Homo sapiens: one gene and its partner. The protein of the gene in region 1 interacts with the protein of each later gene in a biochemical or structural test. Each region holds a gene or a part of one and is shown in the gene's direction. Other genes may lie near its edges. The genes, in order: RPS19BP1 and SIRT1.

The links.
Region 2: the proteins of RPS19BP1 (region 1) and SIRT1 form a complex in vitro, tested with the Homo sapiens proteins (2 studies listed by BioGRID and IntAct).

Annotation. Positions count from the first base shown.
Region 1 is NC_000022.11:39,526,121-39,542,288, reverse strand, and holds RPS19BP1 (active regulator of SIRT1), read left to right. Parts: upstream 1-9,540; 5' UTR 9,541-9,550; coding exon 9,551-9,602; intron 9,603-9,765; coding exon 9,766-9,894; intron 9,895-11,734; exon of another isoform or gene 11,735-11,825; intron 11,826-12,371; coding exon 12,372-12,469; intron 12,470-12,665; coding exon 12,666-12,797; 3' UTR 12,798-13,196; downstream 13,197-16,168. UniProt on the Homo sapiens protein: Part of the small subunit (SSU) processome, first precursor of the small eukaryotic ribosomal subunit.
Region 2 is NC_000010.11:67,904,989-67,915,655, forward strand, and holds part of SIRT1 (NAD-dependent protein deacetylase sirtuin-1), read left to right. Parts: intron 1-1,174; exon of another isoform or gene 1,175-1,266; coding exon of another isoform or gene 1,267-1,299; intron 1,300-1,801; coding exon 1,802-1,949; intron 1,950-3,057; coding exon 3,058-3,137; intron 3,138-4,267; coding exon 4,268-4,454; intron 4,455-7,485; coding exon 7,486-8,043; intron 8,044-10,667. UniProt on the Homo sapiens protein: NAD-dependent protein deacetylase that links transcriptional regulation directly to intracellular energetics and participates in the coordination of several separated cellular functions such as cell cycle, response to DNA damage, metabolism, apoptosis and autophagy.

The DNA of each region.
Region 1 (16,168 bases):
GAGGAACAAGACAGACCGAAGCCCCAGGTGCTTACGTTCTGTGGGGAAAGACAGACAAGAAGCAAGATGAAGAAGTAAGCTGTGAGTTTGGGTGGGGGCTGGGGGGCGTCAAGGGCTGTGTCAATGGCTGCCACCTGTGGAGTAATTACTGCCCTGCCTGGCTGGCGGTTTCTCACCCCACCCTCCTGGCCACATTTTGAGGTGGGTGTGATTATTCTTTTCATTTCATAGATGAGGAAACTGAGGCAGAGGCAGGGTAAGTCTCTGGCCTCTGGTCATAGACAGAATCTGAACCAGGCCATCTGCCTCCAGAGTCCCTGCTAGAAGCCACCATGCTAACTGGGGGCGGAGGGTGGGATGTCTTAGACAATGCCCAAGCTGCCAAGCGCAGTGGCTCACTTGCATAATCCCAACATTTTGGGAGGCCAAGGCAGAGGATCACTTGAAGGCAGGAGTTCGAGACCAGCCTGAGCAACACAGTAAGATCTCATCTCTACAAAAAATCAAGGCCAGGCACAGTGTCTCATGCCTATAATCCCAGCACTCTGGGAAGCCTAGGCGAGTGGACCACCTGAGGTCAGGAGTTGCAGACCAGCCTGGCCAAGATGGCGAAACCCCGTCTCTACTGAAAAAAAATACAAAAATTAGCCAGGTGTGGAGACAGGCGCCTGTAATTCCAGCTATTCGGAAGGCTGAGGCAGGAGAATCGCTTGAGCCCGGGGCATAGAGGTTGCAGTGAGCCGAGATCGTGCCGCTTCACTCCAGTCTGGGCGAAAGAGCAAGACTCCGTCTCAAAAAAAAAAAAAAATCAAAAGATTAGCCAGGCGTGGTGGTGTGCACCTGTAGTCCCAGCTACTAGTGAGACTCTGTCTCAAAAAAAGAAAAAAAAAAAAAAAAAACAGAAAAAGAAAATGCCGAAGCCAAAACTCTTCCAAAGCTCTGTGTGCCTGTGAGCAGGGTTCCTTCACAGAGAGAGCCACACACAGTGTCACACAAGGCCCCACCCTCAGAAGGGCCTCATGCTTGGCTAATGCTCTGCTGTGGCCACCTCGAAATGTTTAACAATTTTCTAACAAGGGGCCCCGCCCTTCTTTTTTAGATGGAGTCTCACTCTGTCACCCAGGCTGGAGTGCAATGGCGTGATCTCAGTTCGCTGCAAGGTCTGCCTCCCAGGTTCAAGCAATTCTCCTGCCTCAGCCTCCCGAGTAGCTGGAATCACAGGTGCCTGCCACCACACCTGGCTAATTTTTGTATATTTTAGTACAGACAGGGTTTCACCATGTTCGCCAGGCTGGTCTCAAACTCCTGACTTCAAGTGATCTGCCTGCCTCGGCCTCCCAAAGGGCTGGGATTACAGGCATGAGCCACTCTCCCGGCCAAGCCCTGCCTTTTTATTTTGCTGTGGGCTCCACATATTACATAGCCAGTGCTGCCCTCAGGGTAACAATGCTTTGCCTGGTGTTCAGGCCCCCAGCTGGTTTCCTTCCCTGCCTCCCCTCCTTTCCAACTCTGGCACCACCAGCCCTTATCACACCAAGGCAGGGTCTCTCTGCAGGGACAGCACCACTCTTTTCTGTGTCTCCAAAGCCCAGCCCTGAGGGACAGAAAATGGAGACTCAGGGAGCATCTCCTGGGTTGGATACCACGGGCTGGAATGGACTGAACTGGCCCCCTGTTGGGGGTCTTCGTGGAGTTTGTTGGTCCAGTGTTCAACTCTTTTCTCTTTTCTCCTCTGAGCTCCTACAGTTCCCTTCTGGCCACATCCTGCCTCCTGGTCCAGGGCACCTCACACAGATGCAGCCCTCCGAACACACCTACCCAAGAGCTCTGGGGTTCAGGGAAGTCCCCCTGACCTCCTCAGGCCCTGTTCCCTGCACGCTCAGCTCTACCATGCAGGGTGAACAGGAGCACACTTTTGCACCTTCTCTCTGCTGGCCAAGGGGGCCCAGAGGGGCGGACTGTCCTAGGCTGGCACCTAGTACACGGTAGGGAGCCCAAGCCCCAACACTCATTCTTCTCTAAGTCCACCTCCCAGCGACCTCATGATCCCCAGGTGTGGATTCCTCTGTGGCTGAGGAAACCCCAGGGCCTGGAAGAAGGCTCAGCTCCTGGCCAGGGAAGTGGAGAGGCTGAGGCGCAGGCTTCTTAGTCCTTTGTGTTCTCGAAGGCTGAGCCCACAGGGGGAATGGTTTGGAAGACTGAGTGAGCATGTGACTTTGAAACTGTGGCAAAGCCTGTTGCTCCTCATTGTGCCTCTGTACCCCTCCTGTGATACAGACCATGCCAGAGCCCCAGCCTGGCTTCCCAGAGGGATCAAGGGGGACTGTCACGAGGGGAACTGGAAGATGTATTAGTCAGTACATGTTAGGCTATGCTATCAAAATTCTAAAATCTCAGAACTTTAATACAACAATAGTTGGGGTTTTTTTTTAATTTTTTTAGAGGCAGGGGCTCACCTTTGTTCTTGATGGGATGCATTCTCACCAGCTCAATGTTAAGAATGCAAAATTGGGCTGGGTGTGATGGCTCACAGCTGTAATCCCAGCACTTTGGGAGGCCAAGGCAGTGGATCACTTGAGGCCAAGAGTTCAAGACCAGCCTGGATGACACAGTGAAACCCCACCTCTACAAAAAATACAAAAATGAGCCGTGTGTGGGTCAGACAAGGTGGCTCACATCTGTAATCCCAGCACTTTGGGAGGCCAAGGCAGGCAGATCACGAGGTCAGGAGTTCAAGACCAGCCTGGCCAATATGGTGAAACCCCATCTCTACTAAAAATACAAAAATTAGCCAGGCGTGGTGGCGCGCACCTGTAGTCCCAGCTACTCTGGAGGCTGAGGCAGAAGAATCACTTGAACCCAGGAGGCAGAGGTTGCAGTGAGCCAAGATCATGCCACTGCACTCCAGCCTGGGCAACAGAGCAAGACTCCAACTAAAAAAAAAAAAAAATTATTCAGGTGTGGTGGTGCATACCTGTAGTCCCAGCTGCTCCAGAGGCTGAGGCAGGAGGATTGCTTGAGCCCAGGAGGCAGAAGGTGCAGTGAGCCTAGATCGCACCACTGTACTCCAGCCTGGGCAACAGAACAAGACCGCGTATATCCTTCCCCTCCTGGCACTTAGTATAAGGCCACAATCATGGAAGCCTAGGGGCTGAAAGGTCTGCACAGAACAGCTGTGCATGCTCTCTCTTTCTCTCTCTCTCTGTCATAATTGCTAATTTATAATTTATACTCTCAGCTATTTCTAAAGAGGATTTTTTAAGTGAAATAAAAGATCAGAAACCACTAGGGAATAGGCATGAGCTAGATGTACTAGAAAGTTGACATGAACGTTTATTAGAGCTGAATAATATAGGGATATAATACAGTCATGTAATAAATTACACTTAGGACAATTGAATAATAATTTCCAACCTGAGCTTCCTACCAGCAGAGGCAAAAAGGCCTCACATATTCACCTCTTGCTGCTTCTTTTGCCAGCTGTCTTTTCCCTTCTTAAAATTTCTTCTCTTTATCCTCCCTTGTTTTCAGATCCGCTGGGAGAAGAAAGACCCCCTCCCCATTTTCTAGGTATCCATATCCAACTTGCAAGGAAAGAACAGCATAAAGTTAAATGGTTACATGATTAGCAGGATGGAAGCTTCAGCCTGAAGAAATGAGTCTACATAGGCCTTAAAGGTACGTCCTACACCATCTTTTTGGCTCCTTGTCCACAGATGGAGCAGGGAGTAGGACTTGAAGGCAGGAGACAGCCTTGACCCCACACAGGGAGCGGTCCAGGCCTCCAGGCCTTGGCTTCAGGGAGTTCCCGGGAACCTCATTGGAAGGCAGACTCCCTTCCCTGATGGCTCATACATTAATTCACTGAATCCCCAGGACGGGCGTGCAAGAGAGGACTTGTTATCTCCAATTCACAGATAGGGATACTGAGGCCAAGAAGGAGAAATGATTTGTGCATGGTTACCCAGCTCCCTTTCCCTGAAGACATGGCCTCAGGGCAGGAGCCCCCCAAGCTGTGGATGAGATGCTCAGAGTTCTGAGCTGGGGAGGAAAGGGGCTTCTGGGCAGGCCCCAGCTTGGTCTGGAAGGATCAGAAGATGGAGACTTGCTCCTCTCCCCAACCACCCCACAGACGCCAGTTGCTATGACAACAGGGCCTCCCTTCCAAGGGTATTGGTTGGAAATTTGCATTTTAATGGAGACATAATTAGAATTAAAGGACGGAGATTAGAAGGGACAGAACTCTCCCCAACCCCATTCTAGCCCCTTGGGAGCCAGAACCCCCACCACAGAGATCTTGAGGCCCCAGAACCACCCACTCCCCACGCCCTCCTCTCCCAAAGCCCTATAGGGATATTTTCTCTGCGACAAAGTGCTATGTCTGTCCCTACTGCCCAGATGGGGATAGCAAAGCCCAGAATAGAGGAGGGACTTATTCTAGATCTTACAGCGAGGTCAAGTTCCCAGAGCCAGGTGACATCCGCTCTGCCTAAGGACCTCCCATCTGACCCCAACCTACTGGTAAGGTCTTTGGGTACAAGTTGGCTTGAGGAAGGGGTGCTTGCTTGCTAAGGGGCCCCCAAGTTCTCCCCTCAGTCTTCCAAGCTCACCCTTTCCTCTTCCTGTAACCTCTTAACATCTCAGTGGCCCTGGGGACCTGGCAGGACTGGGGACTCCGCCCCATCTTTCTCCAGGGACTGGGAGGAATGTACCCAAGATCACACAGCAGGCCAGGCACTGGTGGCTCATGCCTGCAATCCCAACACTTTGGGAGGCCAAGGCAGGCAGATCACCTAAGGTCAGGAGTTCGAGACCAGCCTGGCCAACATGGTGAAACCCTGTCTCGACTGAAAATACAAAAATTAGCCAGGCACACCGGCGGGCCTCTGTAATCCTAGCTACTCGGGAGGCTGAGACAGAAGAATCGCTTGAACCCAGGAGAAGGAGGTTGTAGTGAGCCAAGATCGCGCCACTGCCCTGCAGCCTGGGGGACAGAGCAAGACTTGCTCTCCAAAAAAAAAAAAATAAAAACAAAAAAAAACAAAAAAAAAAAACTTCACACAGTAGCTTAATGGCAGAGCCGCATCTTTGGCTGGTCAGGGTGGAGACATTAAAAAGACCCCACCTTTGACCCCCACCCGGGGGTTACTGGCTGACCCCATATCTCCATGGATAATTTCCAGTAGCTTCTTCTGTGTCTTCATTATACCCTTAAAATCAGGCATGCCACTATTTCACCATTCACATGATTGGAAAGAAGCCACTTGGCCTCTGCCTGGATGCCCTGAGGGGGCTGCTGTCCCTGGGACTGGTGGGTGCCACCCTGAACCCTGCAGACCCTGGACGACAGAGACTCACACTTGCTGAGAGTGTAACACGAGCATGTGGGCACCGCCAGGCCCAACGGAGCCCTTCATTCACCCCAATGCCCGCCTCCTGCACGTGGAGCAGCTCCTGGTTCACGCTCAGCAAATGCTGGCTGGTTTTTCTCCTATTGGCTGCTCCGTCAGTGGTATCAGCAGGTATTTATTGACTGCACAGATGAATAAATGCCAGGCCTGGTGCTGAGCACATTTCATGCCACCTCACTGCACCTCCAACAGACCCCAAGCGCCCCCTCGAAGCTCAGAAAGGTGAGGTAGGTGCCCAGGTCACACATCTGCTAAGCGGCAAAGGCGGCGTCTGAACGGGAATCAGCGACTCCAGGCTGTCAGGTGTTACTCCCTGTGGCCTCCAACCTAACCGTGTGTGAGCACAAGAGTGTGGAAATCCAGAGGCGACATACAAGTGCAGGTCACACCCACAGATGGGGGCCCAGGTCCCACCGGCACACTGCTGTCCACAGAGCAATCACTGATTCACAAACTAGAGTGCTTATTCTGCGTCCAACGGAATTCCAAATGCTCAACCCTCGATCCTCACAGCAGCCTTATGAGGTAGGGATTATTATCATAGTCAACTCATAAACGAAGAAACCGAGGCACAGAGAGGTTGTGGGACTTGCCCAAAGTCACACAGCTAGTAAGTGGAAAAGCCAGGATGTACAGCCTGGCTCTGGAGCAAGTGCTCCCTTCATACCACAGGAGCCAGGAGCTCCGGGCGCCTCCCGCCTCGGCCCTGTATGGAGGACTGGACAATACTCTCTAAAGCCCCCAAAACCTCGGAAGAGGAAATGGGCTAGGGGAGGGAGGGCGGCTTGCCTGTGGACACACAGCTGTGTGAGCCGAGGCCTTGTGGAAACCGGGGCATCTGTGCCAGCCCCAGACCACCAGGACACCCTCTCCAGAACTGCTCACCTCCCAGAGACCCTACGGTCCCCTCTCCAGGGGGCCACTGGTCCCTGGGGGCCACACACATACTCTTGCTTAGGACCCGGAGACCTGGGCTTGAGTCCTGACTCTGTTCTTGAAGGGCTGCACAGCCCTGCAGAAAGCCACCTGCCTCTCAGCCTCCCAGGCCCAGGGTAGTTAAGCTGTTTCACGGAGCCTGGGAGGAGACATAGGGCATGGGGGCCGAAGGGCCCTTTATGGCGATGGTTCCTCTGTGTGGCCAAAAGCCTCAGTGCGGGGATCAGGGGCAGGCAGGGACCCAGTGTGGAAACAGGCTCAGAGCAGTGAAGCCGCTCATCCAGGGTCATGCCAGGTGGGGAACTAGCCTGGGAGACCTCATGACCCGCCCTCCCACAGGGAGACAGGAAGCAGCTGCCCAACCCCCCTCCCCCTCCCCCAGCTTGACCCATCAGGGCCAACGTCAAGACTGGCAGGTCGCAGGTGCCCAAATGCGGGCTGTGGGGTGATCTGCTTGGGCCCAACAGTGGCTGCCCCTGCCCATCCCGTCTTGCCCAGAGGGAGCAGGTAGCATGGCAGCGCTGTAGCACCCTCTACACGCAGTCCCTGGGCGCAGACCCACCCAGGCCCGGCCCACACGGCACGGTATTGATCCACCGGTTCTCACACCTCTCCTAGAAGGGGGATGCTGCCCTGCCAAGCCCCATCCAACCAATGAGGAAACTGAGGCACTCTTTGTTAAGGGATTGCTGGGGTCACACAGCTCCCAGCTGTCATTTGCACACTTTTCAGGAAGGGACCTCGCCCCCCGCCCTGGGCAGCCCAGCCTGGTGGCTCTGCCTCAGCTTCCCCAGCCACTCCTCCAGGCCAGGGTGAGAGTGGGAGGGGGTGCGGGACAGCAGGAAGCCGGGGCCACACGGTGCTGGCTGCAAGGAGCCAGCCGAGGCAGAAGGACGTCCGGACCCCCACCCCCACCTAGCCCGGGTGGGCGCAGCTGAGGCCTTGGAGTCTCGCCGCGTGAGAAAGCTGTCCTGCGGCGCCACCTATTGGCAGAAATGCGCCCGGCCCCGCGGATGTGCTGATAACTCCGCGGGAGGCTGGGGCAGCGCCTGGCCTGCCGTCCCGCCCGTGCCCGGCTGGGCTGCGGACGCTGCAGGGGTCCACCTGGCACGTTGGCAGAAAACTCCTCCACCCGGGGGACCGTGGGCTGATTCAGCCTAGATCGGGAGGAGGACAGAGCTTGGTCCTTTGCCCTCCTGAGAGGCTGACTCGCTGCACATCCCACGACCTCCTGGGCCTCAACCCAGCGGCTCACTGGCGTCCCAAACTCAGCTCTCATCCACTCATTTCGTGCGTTTCTGAACTCTTACCGTATGCCAAGCACTGTTCCAGGCGCTAGGGATATAACAATGAACAAAACAAAGATCCCTGCCTTGCGGAGCTTACAGTGGGGTATGGGCGGGGAAACAGACAATACGCAATACACATAATAAGTAAGACAACAATCCGGCTATGTTAGAAGCAGGAAGGAGGCATATGTCTGAACAGTCACTGGGTTCCAGGCCCCACACTCCCCTTAGGACAAAATCATGGAGTCTGAGGCCTTTGCGACCCTCCAGCCCAGCATGGCATCCTGAAGGGCCACTCGTGTGTCACAGGGGATAGGTCCTCGCTACAGCGGTCTCCGCCTAGAACAATCCCCGCTGCCCATACATGGTCAGCTCCTCCTCACCCTCCAGGGGCCTACCTGACCCCATGGCTTGACAGGCCCCACCCAGCACCACAGCACTGCTCTCCCTGGTGGCTGGGACAGGAGCGCCCCCACAAATCCTGCGGCCAGGCTGCCAGTCTTAACTCCCACCCCTGACTCCACCCGTGTGACCTTCGCCTCTCTGTGTTTGTTTCCTCGTCTGTAAAATGCAAAAGACAATTCCTACCTGGAAGGGTAGGGGGGATAAACAAGTTAACAAATGTAAAGCACGTAGAACAGCACAAATGCTTGAGTTTGTGTTGGTTGTTATTATTACTCTCTAGCCGATGGAGCTTAAACGGTGTGGTCTATCCCGGAGGACGAACTCCAGGTCCCACACTCTGTGGTGTCAAGTACACAGAAGGCCCTCAGAACCCGGCTGAGTGAACCCAGTGGTCCCTTCTGATTCACCGTTCACTTATTGCGTGTCTTCTCCATGCCAGGTGCTGGGCTGCCAGCTGCAGATGGAGCAGCGAACAAGCCCAGGGCTCCTCCCCCAGGTAAGCAGTGTCACTTCTAGGCCAGAGGGGCTCAAATGTTTTGGTCTAAGAAGCTTCTTACATTTAAAACTTCAGAATCCCCTCACTCCTGTAATCCCAGCACTTTGGGAGGCTGAGGTGGGCGGATCACTTGAGGTCCGGAGTTCAAGACCAGCCTGGCCAACATGGCAAAACCCCGTCTCTACTAAAAATTTTTTAAAAAGAAAATTAGCCGGCCGTGGTGGCGGGCGTCTGTAATCTCAGTTACTCGGGAGGCTAAGGCAAAAGAATCGCTTGAACCCGGGAGGCGGAAGTTGCAGTGAGCCGAGATCGCTGCACTCCAGCCTGGGCGACAGAGCGAGATTCCGTCTCAAAAAAAAAATTAATTTAATTAAATAAAATAAATTTTAAAAAATTCAGGATCCCAAAGAACTTTTGTATGTAGGCAACTGATATTTGCCATACTAGAAACTAAAACAAAAATTTTACATATTCATTAATTCACTTAAAATGACAATAAACCCATTGCTTGGTAACATAAACAACGTATTTTATGAGAAATAATTGTAGTTTTCAAAACAAAGATATGTCTTTAATGTCTGGCTTAAGGGAAGACAACTGGATTCTCATGCTGCACTCAACCTGTGCGATACCTAGTGCTGGTTGAAGTATATGAAAAACACTCCGCCCTGTCCCCATCCTAGCCCGCCACGGAGCCACGAGACCCGAGAGGATTGGCCAACCCGGCGGAGCAGGTTGCGGACGGCTTCCGGGGAAGGAGGGGACTGAGCGCCAGGAGCCAGGTAGATTGGGATTGAGTAACACATGTGTCTTTCTGCGCCTTGGACCCGCCTCCAGTTTCCGCCCCTTCTTCCGCTCAAGTGTAAACCCCTAACGCATGCGTCCTAAGAAAGATGGGCACTTCCGCCCATCCCCCTCCGGATCCCTCTGTTCGGGCTCGGGTTTCCGCCGAGACGACAGGGACTGCCAGGTCGGAAGTAGTGTGAGGCTCGTGGGCGGAGCCAAGCGCCGCCATGTCCGCCGCCCTGCTGCGGCGGGGCCTGGAGCTGCTGGCGGCGTCCGAGGGTGAGGAGGGCTGGCCAGGGGACGTCCGGCGCGGGCAGGAGGATGGTAGTGGCTGCGGGCGGGAGCCCTGGATGGAAAACAATCCAGGCCGGGCTTAGCCCCAGTGGCATGGGAACGCTGCGCGCCCTCTGACCTGGGTCTCTTCCTCTCTCTTCCCCTACAGCCCCCCGGGACCCTCCAGGTCAGGCCAAGCCGAGAGGGGCTCCGGTGAAACGGCCCCGGAAGACGAAGGCAATTCAGGCCCAGAAACTGCGGAACTCGGCCAAGGGAAAGGTGCCCAAGTCGGCACTGGGTAAGTTCGGGAAGGGGCTGAAAGTGCTGCCTCCGGTGCTGGGACCTGCGCCCCAGAGGAGGTGGCGCTTGAGGCAGGGCTTGAAGCGTTCGCCCGGTATTGCTAGACCTACTGTGTGCCAGGCGCGGAGCGGGGCCCTGGACATACGAAGGTGACAGAACACGCCACCGTCCTGGTCCTCGTGGACTACGGCCCTAGTGGGGAGAGAAGCATCAAAGAATATCAAACCCAGTGTGTCATTGCTAAGTGCATTGAAGCCTATGAATTAAAAGACTACGGTACTCTGATGGGGACTTAGGCCAAGTCAGCCTTCTCTGAGGAAGCGACATTTCAGCCGAGAGCTGAAGGATGTATAAGAGTGAGCTAGGTGAAAAGTAGGAGAATATTCTAGGAAGAATAGTATGTGCAAAGGTCCTGAGTCAGAAAGGAGGTTGTTGCCTTTGAGAATTTGAAAAAATAAAGGCTGGTAAAGGTGACCTAGTGAATGAGGATCAAAGATGGAGCATTTAAACACATTCACTAACACTCTGTACCAGGTGCTGATTCTAAGTGCTGTACAAATGTAAGCTCGTTTGATCCTTACAGCAGCCCTTTGAGGTCGATACTACTATCACCCCCGTTTTACAGATTCAGAAAAAGGCACCTGCCCAGGTGGTACAGGCATTGTGGCTGCCCGGGCATTGTGTCTCCAGAGTGCTGCTATTACCTACTCCATTGAAATAGGACATGCTGTGGCCTGGGCAGTGGCTATAGCAGCAGAGATAACAAGAGAATTGTGCAGGTGGAAAATATGTTAAAGAGGGGGCAGCAGAGAATTTCAGCCTTTAGAGGGGTTTTAGTGGTGAATTGGCTGTGAAGGTGGAGCCTAGTTTCTTGGGGGACGTAGTGTCACTTAATAGACATAAAGACTTTCGGAGGGGCTGGTGTAGGCAAGATGGTGATATTTTGACATGTGTCAGGACGTGGCAAGCTCTTACTGTGTCTGAATCCCTAGAGTCTAATGCATAAAAGATGTTAAAGTATTTGTTAAAAGAATTATGAATTCCAAGGAGGAAATACAACTTAAGCCAAAGTCTGGAGGCAGGAAAGTGAGACAGGTTTGAGCCCCAGCGATACTTGCCATGAAGCAGGAGTGTGGAGTGCCAGAGGTCATTCCCATCTGTCCCAGCCCTTGTCTCACTGTCGTGTCCTGGGTGCTCACCCACCTCCCCTGTTGGATGGAAGCTCCTAAAGGCACACACCTCCTTGGGCTTGTCCGCAGCCTTGGTGTCCACCACAGGTTTTGGCACATAGATGCTGAGTGAGAGGAATGGCAAGCCTCGCAGCCAATGGAAAGAACACCTCTGCAGCTGCCACTTTGCTCCAAGCTGCATCGTCTCTTGCCTGAATTATTGCAGAAGCCTAGCCGGTCTCCTGCCTTCCACATGCCCCTCCCCCCGTAATCTTGTTCTCAACAGCAACCAAAGTGATCGTGTAAAATCAGAAGTCATTCCTTGTTTTTCCTCTGGGTGGCTCTCATTGTAGTCACTAAAAGGTGGCGGTCTTAGGGTGCCTGACAAGGGCTATATGACCTACCCCCACCCCCAGCCAAACTTGGTCTCTTCCTGCTACCCACTCCCCCTACTCCAGCTGTTTTTGTTGTTGTTTTTGGTTTGTTTTTTTTTTTTTTGAGATGGAGTCTTGCTTTGTCACCCAGGCTGGAGTACAGTGGTGCAGTCTCATCTCACTCCAACCTCTAGCCTCCCGAGTTCAAACGATGCTCCTGCCTCAGCCTCCCGAGTAGCTGGGATTACAGGTGCCCACCACCACACCCAGCTAATTTTCGTTATTTTTAATACAGACGGGGTTTCACCATGTTGGCCACGCTGATCTCGAACTCCTGACCTCAGGTGACCTGCCTGCCTCGGCCTCCCAAAGTGCTGAGATTACAGGTGTGAGCCACCGCACCCAGCCATTCCAGCTGTTTTGTGTTTTTCAAACACATTTGACACATTTCTGCTTCAGGGCCTTTGCACTGGGTGTTCCCTCTACCTAGACAAATGCTCTTTCCCCGGATATCCACAGCTCTCTTCGAGTCATTTCAGTGAGACCTTCTCATTCCCTCCTATTTGAAATTGCACCCTCCACCCCTGGAATTCCCCTTTTCTGTTTCCTCTTTTGTTTTTCTCCATGAAATGTTTGCGCTTCTAAAATACTGGGTCCTTTGTCCTTCATCTCTCACTGAAGCGAAAGCTCCAGAGTAGCTCCCTTGGTGAGTAGTATTCAGGACATAATTGTTGGAAAATGGGGGTGGGGGCCAAGAGCCTGGGGCTTTCAGCAGGACCTGTGTGGAGAATGCATTTGATGGAGAAGAGCCCAGCCGCTGTAATAACCTGGGAAGGGAACGATGAGGTCTTTGGCAGGGCCATGGGCCAGGGACTGAGAATGGTTCCAGGGGGAGTGAATCTGAAATGGTGCTCCCTGCCTGCTACCCACAGACGAGTACCGGAAGCGAGAGTGTCGAGACCACCTCAGAGTAAACCTGAAGTTTCTGACCAGGACGAGAAGCACCGTGGCTGAGTCTGTGAGCCAGCAGGTTGGTCGAGGGTACTATAGGAAGGGACCTGGGAGGTGAGAGCCGAGGCTGTTCCCCTAGGGACCCATGGCGGTCTCAGCCCTGAGCATAGGGTGGGAGGCTGGGCCAGCCCTGCCCTGCGCCGAACTCCCCTGTGACCTTTGCGGGCCTCCTCTGCTCTTGAAATGATGGGCCCTCGGTCCCGCACCCTCGCCAGATTTTGCGCCAGAACCGGGGCCGCAAGGCCTGTGACCGGCCTGTGGCCAAGACCAAGAAGAAGAAGGCTGAGGGCACCGTGTTCACCGAGGAAGACTTCCAGAAGTTCCAGCAGGAATACTTCGGCAGCTAGGCTCCCTGGAGGGCACGGTGAAGAGGCCTTCAAGCCCTGCAGCCTCCGACTCCTGCTGGCTCCAGGAACCGGCCGTGCCGCGCGGCCAGCAGATGGCGATGCAGGACCAGCCTGGCTCGAGGAAGCCGCGGAGCTGAGCCGAGTGGAGGCTGGAATGGAGCTGGTGGGCCGGAAGTCCTGGGGAGGATTTACACACAGACCGGAGCTGGCTTCCGCAGGCCTGGGCAGAGCATCTGCACCTGCCGGAAAGGAACGTATCTGTTTTGTTTGCTTTTGCCCAGGTGGGGCCTCTGGGCTGTTTGCTGTGGAGCAAGGCTAATTCCTGAGCCCTTGGGGACGACAGCTCCAGGAGTAGGAAGAAGGGTGGGCTTCCAAGTTACAATAAATGTGAACCCAAGAGCTGTGTTTGCTGCTGGTCTGCCCCACAGGGTGTCTCCCATCTCCTGTGGCACCAAAGCGCCACGCTGCCTTCCCCATCTCCCAGCGTGCTTCTGAGCTCCGGGTCACAAGTCCTCCAGTCCAGCCCCGGCAGGCAGCCATCAGAACACCCACCTCTGCTGCCAGGGGCGCCTCCCTCCTCTGGGGATGGCCACCACAGCTGAAAAGGTGACTCTTGAGGCAAAAATAGCTGCTGGGAGCAGTTCCAGTGCAGGTGGCTGGGTCCGGCAGTGGGAGTGTTGCTACTTCCGCCTGCGCCCGGGGAGCGTGGAGTCCGCCATGAGCGGAGCATTTCACCCGGTGTGTTCCTTTTCTGGCTCATGCTCTGGTGAGCAGCCAGGTGGGGTCAAATGCCTGTCATAGTGGGGAGGGGACAGTAGAGAGGACTCAGGAGGTAACCTGAAGAAACGGTTTCACACTCAGGTGTGCCTGAGCTGAAGGATGGAGGCGAGGGGAGGCAGGCGGGACCCTTCCAGCAGGCATGGGGTGGGATCAGGAGGTGAAGGACAGGCAGGCACTGAATGACTGTGTGAGTGAAGACAGGAGGCGGAAGCGGAGGCAGGGCCAGCGGAGGAGAGGTGAGAAGTGAGAGCCCAGGAGTCTTTCATCAGGGGGCCTGAGGGGAAGGGACCTGGGAAGCCTTCAGGCAGCTGCTTTTGTCTCCTAAACTCTCTCCTCCCCACCATAGCCTAAGGGCTCCTTTGCTGTGGTGACTCCCATTGCTGCTGGTCGAGAGCCTGGCAGTCCCCTGAGGCTGGGTTTGATGGGAGTGACATCTGGCTCCCTGGGTTCCCTGACGACATTGCCTTCGGGCCTGTTATTTGTAACAGCACTTGCTCCCCCACTGCCCTGGGTGGTCTGTTCCTGGTCTTTAACCGTGTTCCATCCTAAATGAGGACATGAGGGGGCCACACATCTTCCGGGGGCAGAGCTGGAGTCAGGTCCTGTCTCCAGGCGACCTCCATCAGCAGGGGGATGGGGAGGGAGTGTGCTGTGACCCCAAACCTTAGAGACCAGGGCCTCTTCCTGCCTGCTGGGCTGTAATGACCCCACTGGGCAGAGAAACTTGGATATCCGTGGAGACTAGTGGCCTTAATATTTTAAGCGGCTTAACAAAAAGCCAACTCAGCCTCTAGCGCCTGGAAGAACAGGCTGACCATAGGCCCAGGGCCCCTTTCTAACAAGAACACGCCCACTGTTACATAATCGCCCAGGTGTTCTTCCTGCTCCCTCCCTGTGTAGAGTGCAGAGTGACAGGCACTGTCCCACGAGGAGGATGGGAGCCAGGGTCCTGCTGCTTCCCCACTTGTGAGCTTCCCCATAAATCTTACACTTAATGCCAAATAACACTATTGGGTGCCTGTCCATGCCCCTCTGGGTGACAGTCATTTGTGTTTACTGCTGGCACTCTGGTCCAGTGGGTCAAGGACAGGACACTGAGGAGTCTGCCTTTTAACTGTCACCCTGAGCAGTTCTGGTGCAGCTGTCTGGAAGGCAGCAGGGAGCTGGGGTGACTGGGGTAGCACTGGAGGAGAGAGGGTTTGTCCCCATGGGGGGCCGAAGAGGTGCTGTGATGGCCAGGACCTGGTGACCAACAGGGCCCAAATAAGAGGACACTGAGGCCAGACATAGTGGTTCACACATGTAATCCCAGCACTGTGGGAGGCTGAGGCAGGTGGATCACCTGAGGTCAGGAATTCAAGACCAGCCTGGCCAACATGGCAAAATTCCATCTCTACAAAAAAAATACAATAATTAGCTGGGCATGGTGGTGTGCACTCATGGTCCCAGCTGCTTGTGGGGAAAAGGGCTGGGGTGGGAAGATCACTGGGACCCGAGAGGCAGAGGCTGCAGTGAGCCAAGATGGCGTTACTGCACCTCAGCCTGGGTGACAGCAAGACCCTGTCTCAAAAAAAGAGGACACTGAGTTGTCACTTCAACCCAGGGCCGACAGGACAAAGCAGGAGGCCTCCCTCAGTCTAGACATCATGGATGGGTATGAAAGCACCGGAAGCGTCACAGGTGGTTTGGGGAAGCAGGGTTTGAGGAAGCCACCCCATGACCCAGAGGAGGGCCCCAGCCATGGCTTCCTGTGTCTTCCACAGTGGGATGGGCTGCTCAAGCCCCCACACTCTCTGGCCCTCTTTGCTACTAGAGGAGTTGGCCAAGGGGGCCAGGCAGGAGTGGGCCAGGACTGCAACATGGGACTCTGCTGAGGCCCAGCTGCAGGCTCAGAGCTTAGCCTGGGCAAAGGCCTCCGCCACAGGCAGTGGGACTGTGGCACTTGGTGTGTGCCCCATTCTTTCCTGCCAGGCTGACTTTTTTTTTTTTTTTTTTTTTTTTGAGACGGAGTTTCGCTCTGTCCCCCAGGCTGGAGTGCAGTGGCGCCATCTCAGCTCACTGCAAGCTCCGCCTCCTGGGTTCAAGCCATTCTCCTGCCTCAGCCTCCTGAGTAGCTGGGACCACAGGCACCCACCACCACACCTAATTTTTTTTGTATTTTTAGTAGAGACGGGGTTTCACCATGTTAGCCAGGATGGTCTCGATCTCCTGACCTCGTGATCCGCCCACCTCGGCCTCCAAAAGTGCTGGGATTACAGGCGTGAGCCACCGCGCCCAGCCTGCCCGGCTGACTTTCATGGGGTGTTCTCATTCTCTGTCCACAACTCTCCCCACCCCTCAAAGCCCAGCTGGGAGGCCCTGCTCTCTCTTCTGAAGCTGCCACTTTCTACTTGGTCTAAGCATCCACCTTCCGTTTCCCAACTAGGCTGAGAGCCCCCACCCCACCTCATGGGGCACCTGGGCAAGGGTGGTTGGCACTTGAGTGTCACTGCAAGGGCTTTTTCTTTTTTCTTTTTTTTTTTTGAGATGGGAGTCTTACTCTGTCACTCAGGTTGGAGTGCAGTGGCGTGATCTTGGCTCACTGCAACCTC
Region 2 (10,667 bases), on another chromosome or scaffold:
GTGGACGTGGATAAGGCACACAGTTAATTCAGGGACGGTGGAGTCTTGGTACTTGCTCTTTTTCCCTGACCTTGCTTTGGAGTTATTTTATTTTTTAAATTCTGCATTTGGCATGCTATTATCACTTGCTTACTATTATAGGTCCTATTTTATCTGTTGCCTAGCATATTCTCATAGTGCCTAAAATACTCTAAAAGCTATTTCCAGAGGGAGCTTTAATGAGACATACAATGCTTAATCTCTCAAATGTAAATGTACTAGAACAAAGCATTCTGGGGAAGAAAACAGTGGTTGATTTAACTGAACTCACTTTTCCAAAACAGTGGCTTTTGATTTTCTGTAAACATTGACTTTATTAAGCTTTTCCCTTGCTACTATATGCACTCTCTATTTCTTAAATTGCAAAGAGTTATTCATGAAATTTGTGATAAATATTTGAATCTAAGGCAACGTTTTTGGATTCTTTATACGAGGTTTTTAGCAGCATGTGTACATGTATGTGATAGCTGTTAACGGAATTCACTTAAGTTTTACTTAGAAGCCTGGGTAGTAGAACCTAGAAGTTGCAGTGGGAATTTTTTTTTAATTTGAAAGATTAAATAGGTAAAAAGTCATCTTTAATCTCTATTAAACTTTTTTGTATAATGTCAGAAGTGAAAGTTCCCCACATCTGCTTACAGCCTGTTTGTATCCTTCCTGACTTGATTGATTAAATGGACATCTCTATATACATATGCATATAATTTCAATTTTTGCTTAGTAACAAAAACAAAAGTTACACATACTGGTGACTAATTTGCTTTTTTCACGTATGTCATGAACCATTTTCCAGGGCAGTTCATCTAGATCTCCCTCAATTCTTTTTAATGGCTACATATTCCACTATTATGGATGTACCATATTTATACAACCGGTTCCCTATTGATGGACATATGGTTGTGTCTAGTTTTTTGCTAGCATTGTGATAGATTAGAGCCTGTAATGAATGGTAAGGAAGTAAGTAGATGATAGCACTACTACTTTGAAGGAAAAAGTAGAGAATAAACTTCCTTTGCCATAGTCACTTACTAAATGGAATTTAATAAAAACACTGTCAAAAGTTGGGAGGACCAAAATTGATACTTTTTCTCTGATCTTTTTGCCATGTGTATATCTGAATTCTTTGTTTTTAAAGAAGAAACAGCATTGAAGCATTATTTGGGGGGAAAAACACACACACAAAATCCAGCAACTCAGCATTCATGAGCAACTCTATACTATACCAGTATGTGCCTGTGCAGTGGAAGGAAAACAATTTTGGTAAGGATTAAAACTTTAGCTTTAAACTTCCAGCAGGTTGATATTCTAATGAATGATAAATCAAAAAAAAATTTTAAATATTCTTGTATTGACAGTGCTTTTTTTTTTAAATCACCCTACCTTGATATCTGTAATTTTAGTTTAAACTTTCCCATTTTTCTTTAAAGAAAAAAATCTGAATTTGCAGCCAACAAAAATTAGATATCCTAAGGTTGTATTACTTCTGACTTTTATTAAAATATCAACATTTCTTAGAGATGTTTATGGGCCGACTTTGTCTTTTTCTTCAAGGGGCCAAGTTCACTAATTGCTGAGTTTTATGCATATGACAGCAACCGTCCTTTTGTAGGTGTGTGTCGCATCCATCTAGATACTTTAAAATGCTCATCTATTTCATTTTTAAAATTATGTGTGTGGGATTATCAGTATTTTTTTGTTAAACATATGACATCTGTAGTTTATTTCACTAATGTAAATTTTTTCTACCATTTGCTTGATACAGGAAATATATCCTGGACAATTCCAGCCATCTCTCTGTCACAAATTCATAGCCTTGTCAGATAAGGAAGGAAAACTACTTCGCAACTATACCCAGAACATAGACACGCTGGAACAGGTTGCGGGAATCCAAAGGATAATTCAGTGTCATGGTTAGTAAACTTCAGAGTGGTTTTCTGTAATTTATTTTAGTTTTATAGGAAGATATTTCCTATAAAGCTGACTGCCATCGAGAAGTGGAGATAAAGCATTATTTAATCATGTTATCTCATTTATCGATAACCTCAGAAAAGTAGAAAACAAAAATAATAAAAACAGAAGTATTGGCCTTGACAGTTAATTATAGAAAACCTCAGATATTAATTTGCTTTTGATTTCAAAAGATGCTGCAGTTGCATGCATTCAATTATTTTAAATAATCTTTTCTGGCTGAGTGCAGTGGCTCACGCCTGTAATCCTAGCACTTTGGGAAGCCGAGGCGGGCAGATCCCATGAAGCCAAGAGTTCGAGAACAGCTTGGCCAACATGGTGAAATCCCAACTCTACTAGAAATACTAAAATTAGCCGGGCATGGTGGCAGGCGCCTGTAATCCCAGCTACTCAGGAGGCTGAGGCACGAGAATCACTTGAACCTGGGAGTTGGAGGTTGCAGCGAGCCAAGATTGCACCATTGCGCTCCAGCCTGGGAGACAGTGAGACTCTGTCAAAAAAAAAAAAAAAAAAGAAAAAGAAATTCTGAATACAAGAGTAGTATTAGCTGTTAATGAAGAAATGTGACATCTTTAGTTTATGAAACTAAAAGAACTGGATAGTTGAGATGTACAGGATTCAGAGATTCAGAAATGTTTAAAACAAGTATCAACAGGCCATTAGGTATCTAAAGTGTTTCTAAGAACTGCCGAGCTAAGGTAATAGAGTTGGAACTGTCCAACTCTGCAGGATTTTAGCCCTGGAGGAGTGAGCTGTTACAGTTTTGTTGAAAAGAGTAGCTTTAGAAGGCATCATTATATTAGTGTCTCAGAGATTGAGAATCATATTCATTCTATGTATAAATATATAAATTCTTCATCCCCTAGATTCTCCTGTAGTATATCACAAAATCTGCAGTGTGTTCTGAGGTTTAAAATCAAAGTTAAAAACAAAAACAAAAATCCTTAAACCCTCTTAACATTTGTGATGTTAAACTTTATAACGTTTGTGGTGTGTTCAAGAAACAGAAATACTTCTTTAATAAAGCATATATATGTTGTTTGTTTTTAGGTTCCTTTGCAACAGCATCTTGCCTGATTTGTAAATACAAAGTTGACTGTGAAGCTGTACGAGGAGATATTTTTAATCAGGTAATTTGTTGCCCATATTTTAGGAATTGTTCATGTCTCTGAAGTATTTCTTCTTTTGCCTCAAAATCCTTTTTTACCCCTTTAAAGTATATATGGTACAGAAAGATTCAGGAAGAAAATAGTTAGCATTTGGGAATTTTGGTAAAATACACGAGAACCTTTCAATACCTTATATAGAAAACAGCCCTATAAAGGCTCTTCAAATTATGAAATTGGCTTCTTAGTATCTAAGCCGAACATAAAATGTCAGATCATAAGCAAGTTGTTGTTGTAGTAGTTTTTCTCCTTCCTCTCCCTTTTTGTGCCTGTCAGATTTGGACCTTAAATTAGTTATGGTAATCTAAAATTATTTCATACATGTTCATTGCCAAAAAATATAGGAAAATTTGGCAGAAAATAAAAATTATCCAGAAATATGTCCTGTGTGCTTAGCAATATATGGAGGTAATCATGTCATTACGAAAGAGGAAGAATAGTATATTAAAATGGAGTCATTGGTCGGGTGCAGTGGCTCATGCTTGTAATCCCAGCACTTTGGGAGGACGAGGTGGGTCGATCATTTGAGGTCAGAAGTGAGACCAGCCTGGCCAACATGGCAAAACCCCGTCTCTCTTAAAAATACAAAAATTAGCCTGGCATGGTGGCATATGCCTTTAATCTCAGCTGCTTGGGAGGCTGAGGCAGGAGAATTATTTGAACTCGGGAGGTGGAGGTTGTAGTGAGCTGAGATCATGCCACTTCACTCCAGGCTGGGCAACAGAACAAGACTCCATCTCAAATAAATAAAATGGAATCATTTTATTTGACAAATGTCTATTTTTTTTTGAAAGGATCAATTCCCATTTAGTGTATATACACACATTATGTTTTTCCTCTTAATATATGATGGACTCTTCAATGTCAAGTGTTTTTCTACATAGATATTATAACAAGAGCATAGTATTTCATTGTTTCATAGTATGTTAATAAACTACCCATCATTGACAGTTGCTGTTTATCCATAGCTTTTCTGTTTTGTTTTTTTTTTAATAATTCTGAAATGTATTCTTAGAGGTATGGAAATGTTGACTATTTCTAACTTGGGCTTACTCTTTGCTTCTCTACCTCAACCAAAATCTGAAAATATGTAGGTAGTTCCTCGATGTCCTAGGTGCCCAGCTGATGAACCGCTTGCTATCATGAAACCAGAGATTGTGTTTTTTGGTGAAAATTTACCAGAACAGTTTCATAGAGCCATGAAGTATGACAAAGATGAAGTTGACCTCCTCATTGTTATTGGGTCTTCCCTCAAAGTAAGACCAGTAGCACTAATTCCAAGTAAGTTGGTGATGGTTTTTGGAGAACATTTCTATATATAATGTCATGGGTTGTGGGTCTGTATAATAGACGCTAGTAATCTTAACTCTGCTTCTGTTTGAAAGAGTGGTGAAGAGCTAATTTTAGAAATTGTTTGTTTGTTTGTTTATTGAGATGGAGTTTCCCTCTTGTTGCCCAGGCTGGAGTGCAGTCGCATATCTTGGCTCACTGCAACCTCCGCCTCCCGGGTTCAAGCGATTCTTCTGCCTCAGCCTTCTGAGTAGCTGGGATCACAGGCGTCCACCAACATGCCTGGCTAGTTTTTGTATTTTTAGTATAGACCGGGTTTCACCATGTTGGCCAGGCTGGTCTCGAACTCCTCAGCTCAGGTGATCCGCCTGTCTCTGCCTTCTAAAGTGCTGGGATTACAGGCATGAGCCCCCATGCCTGGCCAGAAATTCTTTATTTTTAGTAGAGATGAGGTCTTGTTGTGTTGCCCAGGCTGGATTCGAACTCCTGGGCTCAAGTGATCCTCCTGCCTCAGCCCCTTGAGTAGCTAGGATTACAGGCACGAGCCTCCACATCTGGCTGAACTGTTTTTTTAGGTGGCATTGTTCATTGAGACTGGTGAATCTGACATTTTGATGGGGGGTGGAGGGTTGTCAAAACGCAAGTAATGTTGGTGGCTCGTGCCTGTAATCTCAGCACTTTGGGAGGCCGAGGTAGGTGGATCGCTTGAGGGCAGCAGTTTGAGACCAGCCTGGCCAACATGGTGAAACCCTGTCTCTACTAAAAATACAAAAATTAGCTGGGCATAGTGGTGTGCACATGTAGTCCCAGCTACTTGGGAGGTTGGGGCATGAGAATCGCTTGAACTCAGGAGGCAGAGGTTGCAATGAGCCGAGAATGTGCCACTGCACTCCAGCCTGGGTGACAGAGTGGGACTCTGTCTCAAAAAATCAAAAACAAACCCAGAAGTAATGCTAAACTCTACTTCTAATTTATGTGAAAAATTAAGACAAAGGTAGAGTTCAACTTAGACTTTTTGGTGGAATGTGTTTTTAATGTTGCAAGGGTTAGCATCAATTAATTTATGAAATGGTCCTTTATCCTTATATTTTTTGATTACAGTTTTGATCTTTCAAATTTAATTGATTTCACATTTAATAAATTCAAATGTATAGTTTGGTAGAAGTGTAACATACCATGTAAGATGGAATTTGGGGGCTCAGAATGATTGGTTCATTCTTGTAGTAACAGCCATGCCATAACGGTGATATGTCGATATAGTTTACCCAAAAGGGTGTGTATATAAAAGTGTTCACATAAAATTTAAATCCTTATTACTCTCAGGAAAATTTCTTTGTCATATATATTCTCATACTGTCTGTTTCCTCCTCTAGTTTAGAATCAGAGGAGGAGAGAGAGAGATTTCAGTTGCATCAGATGTGTCCTTTCATAAGTGAGGGAAAGAGGAGAGGAAAAATATTAAATCCCTAGCCAGAGAATTGAATTAGACCCCACATCAGCAGTCAAGGCAGCCAGAGTAAACAGTTGGAAGAAACATGGAGTCAAGCTCTTCAATTTTGTGTCTATCCCATATCTCGTGGCTTTAGCAGTTAACTCAGTCTTACCTAATTAGCTGTGAAATTCTGTTAAAGTAGAATACAAGACAATTTGCAATTAAATGAAACATGAAAATTTAATATACAAATCTCTTTGTTCTTGAGTTGCTCTTCTTAAAGCAAAATCAAAGGCACTCTGCTTAAAAGCTTTTCTTTTTATTTTTTAGAGACGGGTGTCTTGCTGTAGCTCAGGCTAGAGTGCAGTGGTGCAGTTTCAGCTCACTGCAGCCTTCAACTCCTGGGGACAAGCAGTCCTTCCACTTCAGCTTCCTGAGTAGTTAGGACCAGAGGCGCACACCATGCTTGGCAAATTTTTAAATTTTTTTTTGTAGAAACGGGATTCACTTTGTTGCCCAGGCTGGTCACAAACTCCTGGCCTCAAGTGATCCTTCCTCCTCTGCCTCTCAAAGCATTAGGATTACAGGCATGAGCTACCATGCCTGGTCCTTAAAAACTTTTCTTTCAAAAGCTTTCTGTGGGATAGTATGATGTGTTGCAAAGATAATTAAAAAAAGAAACAGGTTTATAATAGCGTAGAATATGTTTATATGACTTTTTCCCTCCCCCCCTCCCCTCCCTCCCTCCCTTCCGTTTGTCCTTCCTTCCATTCATCCTTCCTTCTGTTAGTCCTTCCTTCTGTCCATCCTTCCCGTCCGTTCTTCCTTCCTTCCTTCGTCCATCCTTCTGTCTGTCCTTCCTTCCGTTCATCTGTCCGTCCTTCCTTCCTCCCACCCTCCCTCCCTCCCTCCTATCCTCCCTCCCTCCCTCATTGCCCAGGCTGGAGTGCAATGGCATGATCTCGGCTCACTGCAGTCTCCCGTGTTCAAGCAGTTCTCCTCCCAAGTAGTTGGGATTAGAGGCATGCGCTACCACACGCCCGGCTAATTTTGTGTTTTTAGTAGAGATGGGGTTTCACCATGTTGGTCGGGTTGGTCTTGAACTCCTGACCTCAGGTGATCCGCCTGCCTCGGCCTCCCAAAGTGCTGGGATTACAGGCGTGAGCCACTGTACCCAGCTCACCTTCTTTATATCAGGAGCTACTTAAGTAGAACATTTATGTACCAAGAACTCTTCTGTGCACTTGACTAACTCATTTAATCCTCACCACAGTCTTGTGGAGAAGTACTATTATCATCCCCATTCTGCAGACAAGGAAATTTGAGGTTCAGAGTGGGAAAGTCTGGGAAGATTGCTCAGGGGTAACCAGGTGATAGGAGCAGAACTTGAGCGTTTTATAAAAGACACTTAACTGCCCATCTGCTTGCTTGATGAAATGTAATGGCTTGGTTAAGTATTTAGTGCATGGGTCTTTTTTGGGAATTTGGAGCTCAAGCCCTTGTTGGATTTTTGCATAATGTATCTGTTGTGGTTTTATTAGCTTACTTCCTCCTCCCTTTTTCTAACTCTTATTTTTCACCCTATTTTAGGTTCCATACCCCATGAAGTGCCTCAGATATTAATTAATAGAGAACCTTTGCCTCATCTGCATTTTGATGTAGAGCTTCTTGGAGACTGTGATGTCATAATTAATGAATTGTGTCATAGGTTAGGTGGTGAATATGCCAAACTTTGCTGTAACCCTGTAAAGCTTTCAGAAATTACTGAAAAACCTCCACGAACACAAAAAGAATTGGCTTATTTGTCAGAGTTGCCACCCACACCTCTTCATGTTTCAGAAGACTCAAGTTCACCAGAAAGAACTTCACCACCAGATTCTTCAGTGATTGTCACACTTTTAGACCAAGCAGCTAAGAGTAATGATGATTTAGATGTGTCTGAATCAAAAGGTTGTATGGAAGAAAAACCACAGGAAGTACAAACTTCTAGGAATGTTGAAAGTATTGCTGAACAGATGGAAAATCCGGATTTGAAGAATGTTGGTTCTAGTACTGGGGAGAAAAATGAAAGAACTTCAGTGGCTGGAACAGTGAGAAAATGCTGGCCTAATAGAGTGGCAAAGGAGCAGATTAGTAGGCGGCTTGATGGTAAGAAAGGCAGTCGGACCATTTTGAAAGTATAAATGTCATAACAGTATTTCCAAAAAATTAGCTATTTCGGCAGGTTAATCGATAGGGTAGCTTTATGTAGTTGATTCTGTTTAGAGAAACTGTACAGTTCGTAATCAGAAAGGTAAATCTTCTGGTATCTTAACATGATATGGAGAAGGAAGTGTTTAATAGTGCTCTGTATGTTGTGTTTCTCTAGGGGATGGAAAAATAAGAATGGGTTATTAGCTGGCAGAAATGATGACAGATTTGAGTGCTTACTGTAGGTCAGCTGCTTTACATATGTTACCTGATTTTAATCTGAGGTAGGAACTATTACTCTTCTTCAGGTGGGAAAACTCAGGACCATAGAGGTTAAATACCTCATGCACAGTAACTACTAAGAAGTGGAAGAACCAGATTAAAATCCAGTCTATTTATGCTTAGAGCCTGCCCCCTTAACTACTATGCGGTGTTGTCTCAGATGTAGAACACATCTTTGTTTTCTCTGAGGACTTAGAAAAAACACGCGTGATTCTTCTCCACTGAATATAGGAATAGTTTCTACCCTGTTTAGAACATGCATAGTCTTTATCAATAAGTGTTAACTGACATGTGAAATCACTTTCTACTCTTTGGAAGCCGATGTTTTAAGTCCAAGTAGTCTGTATGGTGGAAATTCCTAACTTATGTTAAAAAAAAGAAAACCACTGTAACTTAGCTATAACAGTCTTATATAACTTAGAACTTTAAGTCTCATTCCATTTACCATACTTGGCGAAAACTGACAAATTTTAGACAACTGTATTTGAGTATTCCAGTCATTTGCTGTAAATACATTTTAGTTCAGTTGAATAAACCTTTGGCCTTTTTCATATTAGGCACTGTGGTAAGTTATGGAGACACAGTGATTAATGTTGTGTATAATTATAAATGTGAGTGATACTCATTAATACTTTGGTATAGGTGCTGCTGAAGAACAAAGTACTTTATTATTGTTTTGAACAAAACATCACACAAAAGGTAGATTTTTTTTTTTTTTTTTTTTTTTTTTTTTTGTGACGGAGTCTCACTCTGTCGCCCAGGCTGGAGTGCAGTGGCACGATCTCAGCTCACTGCAACCTCTGCGTCCCAGGTTCAAGAGATTCTCCTGCCTCAGCCTTCTGAGTAGCTGAAATTACAGGCATGCGCCACCTTGCTCGGCTGATTCTTGTATTTTTAGTAGAGACGGGGTTTCGCCATGTTGGTCAGGCTGGTCTCAAACTCCTGACCCCATGATCCATCCACCTCGGCCTCCCAAAGTGCTGGAATTACAGGCGTGAGCCACGGCGCCCAGCCCCAAAAGGTAGATTCTACTTGGAGATTAGATTACAGAAGGCTTTCTAAGGAGCAAAATATTTAACAATAAGTAGGGATTTAAAAAGAGCAGACGTGTTCACAGGGGAAACTAGAAAAAGCATAGAGGGATGCTTACGTTTGCAAATCGTGGCAGAAGTCAGAAAGTAGAAAAATTGCTACTGACTTAGATACACAGTTGTCTCTAGCGTATACAAAGTCTACCTATGCACTAAGACTTGCACTGGGAACTTTTCTTGAATGTCATTTTGACAGATGTGTCAAACGGACAATCTCTTTGCCCAGGAAACAGAGTTAACCTGGAACAGTCATTTTTTTTTAAATTTATTTATTTTTTGAGACGGAGTTTTGCTCTTGTTGTCCAGGCTGAAGTACAATGGTGTGATCTCGGTTCACGGCAACCTCCGCCTCCCGGGTTCAAGCGATTCTCCTGCCTCACTCTCCAGAGTAGCTGTAGCTGAGACCACAGGCGCATGCCCTCATGCTCAGCTATTTTTTTTTTTTTTTTTTTTAGTTTTTGTAGAAACAAGGTCTTGCCACATTGCCCAGGCTGATACCAAACTCCTGGGCTCAAGCAGTCTGCCAGCCTTGGCCTCCCAAAGTGCTGGGATTACAGGTGTAAGCCACTGTGCCCTGCCTGTGGTGTCTTGGGAAACTCATGAGTACTATGTGTCTGTTGTAATAGAGGGAAATAAGTGGTTTTCACAGTGATTTGTAGTGGACTGTGAAATTTTAGGGATTCAGGTCAGAGTTGTCACACAGGTTGTAGTCAGGGTGAGAACTGGGTCATGATGCAGTATGAAAAAGTTCGAGAGCCACTTTGGAGAGAACTTGAGATAGGCCACCTACCAGTGTGGTAACCAGGCTTTTGAGAATTCGTCTGGGATACGGTACAATAAATACTACATCTATTATGTGTGAAGAGATGTTAAGTTAGGGACATACTGTGAATTCAAGGATAGAAAACTTTTCCATCAGTTTTTAGGGATCCTACTCTTTCACTTAAACCCCAAATGGCCAAGCTAGGATTGATTTGGTGTGCTGTAGAAAGAACTTCATTGGTATTCATGGATTCACATTACATCTTAGAGGAGTTTTCAAAAGCGTCTTAGACTGTATGTGTATATACACACACATTCTGAAGCAGTAGGTGGGTCTTGGGGCCTGAGATCTCGGGTGAATGTAAATTTAGGTTCACAGGTGATACTGTAGATTCACAGTGTCTACAGAGTACACTATGAATTTGTGGTGACTACATTATTGACAAA